Linked DNA regions of Homo sapiens: region 1 is linked to region 2. Evidence: fine-mapped expression QTL. A gene starts in region 2. The other region holds a variant in brackets. All regions are shown on one strand. Distances are between the middles of the regions.

What was found. PIP is the estimated chance that this variant, and not a neighbour inherited with it, causes the effect. A credible set is the group of variants that fine-mapping cannot tell apart.
Region 1: its variant is the best candidate, but not a certain one, in a credible set for the expression of GPLD1 in subcutaneous fat (FUSION, PIP 0.87).

What each region holds. Positions count from the first base shown.
Region 1 is chr6:24,538,959-24,543,353 of GRCh38, reverse strand. LOC124901277 (a long non-coding RNA gene) reads left to right here and starts at 3,302. Exons shown (of 2, transcript XR_007059507.1): 1 at 3,302-3,339; 2 at 3,674-4,395. It also overlaps a transcript of KIAA0319 not described here. RefSeq lists an enhancer at 3,588-4,395. The variant T/C (reference allele first, on the strand shown) is at 2,214.
Region 2 is chr6:24,487,339-24,491,733 of GRCh38, reverse strand. It overlaps GPLD1 (glycosylphosphatidylinositol specific phospholipase D1), which reads left to right and starts at 2,156. Exons shown (of 25, transcript NM_001503.4): 1 at 2,156-2,319. The coding sequence starts at 2,223.

The DNA.
Region 1 (4,395 bases), 52 kb before region 2:
ACCATGACCACAATCAAGCTGTTGAACAAACATAATTACCCATAAAAGTTTCCTCGTGGCTCTTTGTAATCCCCCTCTCCCCTGGCAATCACTAGAGATTAGCTTGAATTTTCTGGAGTTTCATATATGGTAGTACTGTATGGAGCTTTCCCCTCAAACAGGTAGTAGTTCCTTCCTTTCCAGGCTGTTTTAACTCACTCCATTAGCAACTGTGAACAGAAGTTCTCTGAAAAGGAATTTGAAGGAAAGAGACTTTATTGCCGTGAACAGTTTCCAAACCACAGAGTTATGGTCTTCTGTGTAAAACAAAGATGGGTTTCAAAAAACAAAGCAAGCGTTCTGGATTTATAGCAAAATTCTACCCAGGTTTCCAATCAGGTCCATATGTAAATGAAGGATTGAAACTTGCATAGTTCTGATTGGTCAGTGTAGCTCAGTTTGGGTTGGTTGATACAGATGACGCCTGGTTGGTTGATACATCTGAGTCCTGATTGGTTAAGGCAGGTGAGCTCTGATTGACTGGTTCAGGTGAACTCTGGAGTTCCCAAACTGAACAAAGGTGTGGGTTTTGGGGGGAACTCAGTACATGTGTGTGACATCTAGTTAACAAATGCTCACTTAGGTGTTTTTTGTTTGTTTGAGACAGGGTCTTGCTCTGTCACTCAGGCTGGAGTGCAGTGGCACCATCACGGCTCACTGCAGTGTGGACCTCCCAGGCTCAAGTGATCCTCCCACCTCTCAGCTTCCTGAGTAGGTGGGACTACAGGTGTGGACTAATTTTTTGTAGAGATGGGGGAGTCTCACTATGCTCTCCAGGCTGGTCTCAAAAATTCCTGGCTCAAGTGATCCACCTCCCTCTGCCTCCCAAAGTGCTGGGATTACTGATGTGAGCTACAGTGCCAGGTCCCACTTAGGTCTATTTTAAATTTAGGCCTAGTTAACCAATGGGGATTTATCTTAAAGGATTGGCTCTTTCAAGTTCATATTTGTTCACATAATTTTGTTGAGATAAATGCTTGTTGAAGTATGAGAATGGGAATGGGGTATTGTAGTTAAACTAATTACGTGGCTCCTGGATCATCTTCAATCCTGTAAGAGTTGTGTATTTACTGAGAGAGCAAATACTAGGCTAAGTAAAGGAACAAAATCTTTATAATTTCAACAAGGATGACTTTCCATTACTGAAACTAAAGGAATTTTTATTTTATTTTTTTTCAGACAGTCTTGCTCTGTTGCTCAGGCTGGAGCGCAGTGGTGCAATCTCGCTTACTACAACCTCTGCCTCCTGGCAGTTCAAGTGATTCTTGTGCCTCAGCCTCCTGAGTAGCTGGGATTACAGATGTGTGTTACCACACTCAGCTACTTTTTATATTTTTAGTAGCGACGGAGTTTCGCCATGTTGGCAAGGCTAGTCTCGAACTCCTGGCCTCAAATGACCCGCCCGCCTCAGCCTCCCAAAGTACTGGGACTACAGGCATGGGCCACCATGACCAGCCAGAAAATAAAGGCATTTAAAAAAATATTCCTTCAGTGTTGTGGGCTAAATTATTATTTTTGAGATGGAGTCTCACTCTGTCACCCAGGCTGGAGTGCAGTGGCATGATCTTGGCTCACTGCAACCTCTTCCTCCCCAGTTCAAGCGATTCTCCTGCCTCAGCCTCCCAGGTAGCTAGGATTACAGGCGCCCACCACCATGACGGGCTAATTTTTGTATTTTTAGTAGAAATGGAGTTTCGCCATGTTGGCCAGGCCGGTCTCAAACTGCTGACCTCAAATGATCCACCAGCCTCGGCCTACCAAAGTGCTGGGATTACTGGCGTGAGCCACTGCGCCCAGCTGACTAAATTAATCGTGTTATGTCAAAATTCATAGGTTGAAGCTCTAACCCCCAGTACCTGAAATGTATTTGGAGATAGAGCCTTTAAAGAGATGTGATTAATTAAGTTAAAATGAGTAAAATGAGGCCATTAAGATGGGTCCTAATCCAATCGACTGGTTTTCTTATTAGAAGAAGAGATTAGGACCTGCAGAGAGACATCTGGGGCACGCAGGCACAGAGGAAAGATCATGGGAGGACATGGCAAGAAGGCGGCCATCTACAAGCCAAGATGAGAGGCGTCAGGAGAAACCAAACCTGCCGACACCTTGATCTCGGTCTTCTGAGAATTCATTGAGCGATTCACTTATTCAATTATGTATCCTTTTTTTTTGCA[T/C]GTATATAATAGTGAAAGGAAAGTTTAAAAAAGCTACCAATCTTGCCAAGTTACTTTCAAAGTCATTTATGAAGAGGTACTGCCAGGGATTTCCTAGGTAGAGATGAAACAGTTCTGTATCTTGATTCAGGTGCTGCCTACACAAATCTAACTATTGATGTGATCAAATTAGGTAGAGGTGTACAAACACTCACATACAAATGAGTGCACATAAAAACGAGTGAAATTGGAATAAGGCCTGGATTAACAGTTTTGCACTGGTATCAGTTTCCTGGTTTTGATAATTGTATTACATAGGTAATAAGCGAACCACTGGGTGAAGGGTACACGGGACTCTGCATTATCTTTGCAACTTCCTATGAATTTATAATTATTTCAAAATTAAAAGTTTAAAGATGTTGAGAAGGAAAGGCCAGATCCACATATCAACAGTAAAATAAGCATTTCCATTAAAATCAGGAACAAAGTTAAGAAAGGAAAAAAAAAAAAAGAAACAAAGTCACCATTTCTCCAACTAATTGGTCCCTAGAGCCTCTCTTGTTGAGTTGAGATTAGCAAGCAGCAAAGCTTCCTTTATTTGAAGCCTACATGGAGAGTATTATCACCTCCATTCTCCTAAAGATGATGAACCCAGAGTTGCAGGACTGAGACTTTATTGCAGCAGGAAGAGAGCACATAGGCTTATACGGTCATGCCTGGCATAGTGAAATTTCTGTCAGTGATGGACTGCATATATGATTTATGGACCCATGAGATAATGGAGCTGAAAAGTTCCTGTCACCTAGTGATGTCGTAGCCATCATAAAGTCCAATGCAGCCCAATGCATTAATCATGTTTGTGGTGATGCTGGTGTAAACAAACCTGCATTCTCAGTTGTATAAGAGTATAGCACATACAATTATGTACAGTATATAATAAGTGACTATGCTACTGGTTTACGTATTTATTATACTGTACTTTTCATTGTTATTTTACAGTGTACTCCTTCTACTTATTAAAAACAGTTTATTGTAAAACAGTATGTGGCTGGGTGCAGTAGCCCACTCCTGTAACCCCAGCACTTTGGGAGGCTGAGGCTGGAGGATTGCTTGAGCCCAGGAGTTTGAGACCAGCCTGGACAACATGGTGAGACTCCATCTCTATAAAAAACATGTTTAAAAGTTAGCTGGGTGTGGTGGCGAATGCCTGTAGTCTCAGCTACTCAGGAGGCTGGGGTAGGAGGATCTCTTGAGCCCAGGAGGTCAAGGCTGCAGTGAGCTGTGATGGTGCCGGTGCACTCCAGCCTAAATTACAGAGTGAGACCCTGTCTCAAAAACAAAACAAAACAAAACAAAAGAAATACTGGGTTATACCAGCAGTATAAACGTGTCTTGTTTACTGTGCCTCTTGATTGCATTATTTTCTCTTGTGCTTCAATTAATCTCGTGTTGCTTTGTTCATCACGGTCCCTTTGTCATAGAAAATCCACGGCTATTGTTGCCAGTAAGAGGCCACATCAAGTGACTGATCTTGAAACAAGAGATTAAGGATTACCAACCAATGGGTAAAGGAGTTACAGCAGCTTTTAAGGCCCACTGCCTGAGGAGGAGCAGCTTTGCTCAGGTTATTACTGCAACAAAGGAAGACACGGAGAAGACGCTGATGCAATTCTGAAAGGATTACATCTACGACTCCATCAGGACCCTTGCTTGGGCTTGGGGTGATGTTACCAAGGAACGTATAAATGACATCTGGAAGAAGACACTCAAGAGGTTCATCCGTGATTTCAAAGGATTTGCCAAGGACAAGGAGGTTGCAAAAACCAACAAGGCTGTGGTTGAGATGGCAAACAATTTTAACCTGGGGGTGGAAGAAGAAGACATTGAGGAGCTCCTACAGGTGGTTCCTGAGGAACTGACTAATGAGGAGTTGTTGGAACTGGAACAGGAACACATACCTCAAGAAGAGGCAAGGAAGAAAAAACTGCAGAAGAAAAAGAATCCCCATGAAAATTCACAGTGAAGAGCTGAGAAGTTTTTGCAGACCTCAGTAAGCGCCTTAAAAATTCTGAAAACATGGGCCCCTCAACACCAAAAGGGTTTCATTAACAGAGAGGAATGTTCTTTATGCACTGTCTGCTTACAAGCAAATCTATGATGAAAAAGGAAAGCAAGCAAACCACCATGGACATATTTCTGATGC
Region 2 (4,395 bases):
GTTTGGTAACTGAACCCATTCCTTTTTTTTTTTTGAGGTGGGGTCTTGCCCAGGCTGGAGTGCAGTGGTGTGATCTCAGCTCACTGCAACCTTCACTTCCCAGGTACAGGCGATGTTCCCGCCTCAGCCTCCTGAGTAGCTTGGACCATAAGTGCATGCCACCATGCCCGGCTAATTTTTGTTTTTGTTTTTTTCTTGGTAGAGACGGGATTTTGCCATGTTGCACAGGCTGGTTTTGAACTCCTGGCCTCAAGCCATCTGCCCGCCTTGGCCTCCTAAAGTGCTGGGATTATAGGCGTGAGCCACCACACCTGTTCTGAACCCATTTCTTTGGTGCTTTTTGGATGGGTTTGTTGTATTATATATGGTTAGATATCTTTTCTAGCAGTATTTTTTTCCCCTGTAACCATTGATTGACTGCTCTTGGATGTTCTGAGAGACAATATCCAAAGTCCCAATTAATAATTGTGACTCCCTCACGCACAGTCTGTAGAAGGCCCAGAGTGACAGGGAGGCAAACTCAAAGGCCTCTGGTGGCCAGAAGGGGTGTGGAAACCTGCACACATTGCATGGATGGTGGGGACTGGAGGAGCAGGACATGCTCTATCAGGGGGCAGCTGGCTCTTTGGCTGCAGCTGGTTGTCGTGTCACATGGGAGCGTCAGTTCATGATGCCAGTTCTTTTGTTTTTAAGAGAGCCAGAAATCTAGATTTCTACGTGAATTTTCTCATTTAGAAAAAGTTCATAAACTTGATTTAAGTTTATAAAACATCCTGTTAGCCAAACAAAACACGTAGGCATATGGCCTCTGGACTAATCAGGAGTAGCTGGGCCTACTGCCCCTCAGGTCTGGGGGTAGCTGCGGGATTTCTTTCCTTGGGGCTGTGCACATGGCTGTGTTAAGCTTACAGGGGAAACTGTTGGGGCGACAACTGTTGTCAAATCATTCCACTTTCTTTTTTTCTTTTCTTTTTTTTTTTTTGAGACAGGGTCTTGCTCTGTCACCCAGGCTAGAGTGCAGTGGTGCAATCTCGGCTCACCGCAATCTCCACCTCCTGGGTTCAAGAGATCCTCCCACCTCAGCCTCCCCAGTAGCTGGGACTACAGTCACGTGCCACCACACCTGGCTAATTTTTGTATTTTTAGTAGAGACGGGGTCTTCACTATGTTGATCACGCTGGTCTCAAACTCCTGACCTCAGGTGATCCACCAGCCTCAGCCTCCCAGAGTGCTGGGATTACAGGTGTGGGCCGCCACGCCCAGCCAAATCATCCCACTTTCTATTCATCCTTTCATTTGGCAAACCTGAAGTGAATACTATTTCCTCCCACTCTTTTAGGAGCCCATCTCTTGCTTTTAATGTAAAATATGCATAATTTGTGTTTTAAGATTACCATCAGTTTCATGAAGAGCTTAATTTTTCCCATGGATGAAGTGTAAGTGGGTACCTGATAATATATCGTGAGCTTAACATTTTCCAAACCCTGTTTCTTGGCCCTAAATCTGCCCCCTTCCTTCCACCTCCCAAGTGGAATTGACATCTTTGCTTCAGCTGCAGGAATCTGACCTTGCAACAGGCTCTGGATAAGCCCTATTAGAACAGCCAGAGGTAGAGAGACCAGGAGTGGCTGCTCTTGTGTAATCCCATACAAGTGTCAGTATCTGTTGCCAAATACTGAAAAGGAAGCCAGTTCCAGCTGATTACCATAAAACTTTCCCAGCACTTGTGGCTTGGGAGGCGGAGGAAGCAGGACAGCCTGATAAATGTGTAGAAAGGATGCATGAGAGATCCACCCTTGTAAGGTGAGGTGGTCTAATATGTTGACTATCTGCACAGGTGAGCCTTTTTATAGAAAGCAAAAAATATCTGGAGACAACTTTGCTTGCATCTCTACACAAATTTCATGTTAAAATGAAATCCAGAAAAAACCTCGGTCAGAAGATGCAGTGCTTCTGGCCTAAGGCTTTTCAGATTTCAGTTTATCCTCCCAACCCCACCCCCCAGGAGCACAGAGTTTGTTTGCTGTTCTGGTGAAGCTAAACAGTAGTTGGACAGTTGACTTCATTGGAAAACGATATTATTTTGAAATGAGGCTTGGTTTCCTCGGTCAGTGACCTGCTTAGAGAGAAGCGGTGGGTCTGCACCTGGATTTTGGAGTCCCAGTGCTGCTGCAGCTCTGAGCATTCCCACGTCACCAGAGAAGCCGGTGGGCAATGAGATCATGTCTGCTTTCAGGTTGTGGCCTGGCCTGCTGATCATGTTGGGTTCTCTCTGCCATAGAGGTTCACCGTGTGGCCTTTCAACACACGTAGAAATAGGTAAGTACTGGTGTCTTGTTATGTTGTTGAGAGGACAATACATCTGTCAAAGACATTAAGGAAGAGACTGAAAATCCCGCTCGTGGATTGATACAGTTTCCCCTGGGCACTGAGCTGAGTGGCCTGACAGCAGGGAGGAGAAGCCGGTGATTGCAGTCATCCAGGGATAGGGATTGGCAGCATGACTTCAGTTAAGGGGCAAATAAGAAAGAGAGCTGATGCCCCATTGGTCATGGGACCCCTGTGTGTTTCTCTGGGTGGGGAAATAGTGAGAGGCTCAGTGAACGAGAGGTTGCAACGTGGCAGCAGAACTGACAGAATGGGAGAGGAACAAGATGGGTGGAATATGGCAGGAGTGAGAAATGTACTTTTGTTGTTTTTACATGTCCAAGGACAGGCATTTCCAAGTATATGTAAAGAGCCATATGTGGCCATGGGAGTGGGTCCCTGAGTCAAATTGCTGTAAAAGTGCTTGGCTTCAGGAAGGTCAAGAAAGTAAGGGAGTTTAGTTATCCACATGCACGGTGCCAGGAAGATGGCAGGAGTTGGAGAGCAGAAGGGTACAGCAAGCCAGTGCCACCGACCTTAGGGGCAAGGGCAGAGTCATCCTGGATATAGGGAGATGGCACCACAAAGAGTTATTTAAAATTTTTATTTTTCTAGCTTTATTGATGTATAATTGACAAAAATTGTATAAATTTAAGATATACAACATGATGTGTTGATATATGTATGCCTTGTGAAATGATTAGCACAATCAAGCTAATTAACACATCCGCCCCCCCCACATAGCTACCATGTTTTTTGCATATGGGCTGAGAACACTTAAGATCTTTCTTAGCAAAAGGATTTGGTTCTTGTATGAAGTGTATTTGTAACATGTTTTAACGCATGGAAAACGTGAGTCAATTTGTAATAGAATTAGCTGTGATAACATTCTACAGCAATTTTCAGATTAATTTCAGATATACCTGATGTTCTGAGTTTTCTTTTTTTTTTTTTTGAGACGGAGTCTCGCTCTGTCCGCCATGCTGGAGTGCAGTGGCGCAATCTCGGCTCACTGCAAGCTCCGCCTCCTGGGTTCACACCATTCTCCTGCCTCAACCTCCCGAGTAGCTGGGACTACAGGTGCCCGCCACCACGCCTGGCTAATTTTTTTGTATTTTTTTTTAGTAGAGATGGGGTTTCACCATGTTAGCCAGGATGATCTCGATCTCCTGACCTTGCGATCCGCCTGCCTCGGCCTCCCAAAGTGCTGGGATTACAGGCGTGAGCCATCGCGCCTGGCCTGAGTTTTCTTTAATTTAGATAAAAATTATAACAGAATTTTATAGTTGTACCACCTCCAGAAGTTTCAAAGAATAATAAGATTATAGGCAAAAAATGAAAATTTATCAGTGCAAAATAGACATATATACTGAGCTACGATGGGCAAGAACCTGTTATCACAGAATTTGACTATCTGAAAGGACACTAGAAGTCACCGAGTCCAGTTCTCTTCTTTTACAGATGAAGAAACTGATACTAGACAGTTTTACAGCTAAGTTTTCAGTGGCCTGGCCTAGAATTACATGTCCTGACAGCTGGTCCGGCGTTCTTTCCATTAAAAATGTACTGCTAGAAGGGAGTCAGGAAACAATGGAAAAGAGGATCAGACTTAGGTTCTAGTTCCAGCCATCCAGTAAAGTAGATGTGTGATTCTGAGCAATTCACTTTTTACCTACCTCTCAATTCTATAAAATGAGGGGGTTGAACTTCTTAAAGAATTCTAAAGTGTCTTGCAGTTCTATGTTCTGTGAAGTTGAAATTGCCAAAACTACAGAGTAAGCTGATGAGGAACAAATATAAATGGAAATACTCCATTTTTAATCCTTAGTGTTTAAAAATTTACAAGACAGATTGCATCTGAAATTTTAATAAAACCAGATAATTGCTTGCCCTTCTTCATTAAGTACCAAACAAAGGTCCTAATGGACATTTAAAGAATAATATTTATGTGAACATAATTGAAGGCATCTCCTGAAATAGAATCTGCACGGATTCTGAGAATTTTTTTACATAGAAGAAGACCAAAAC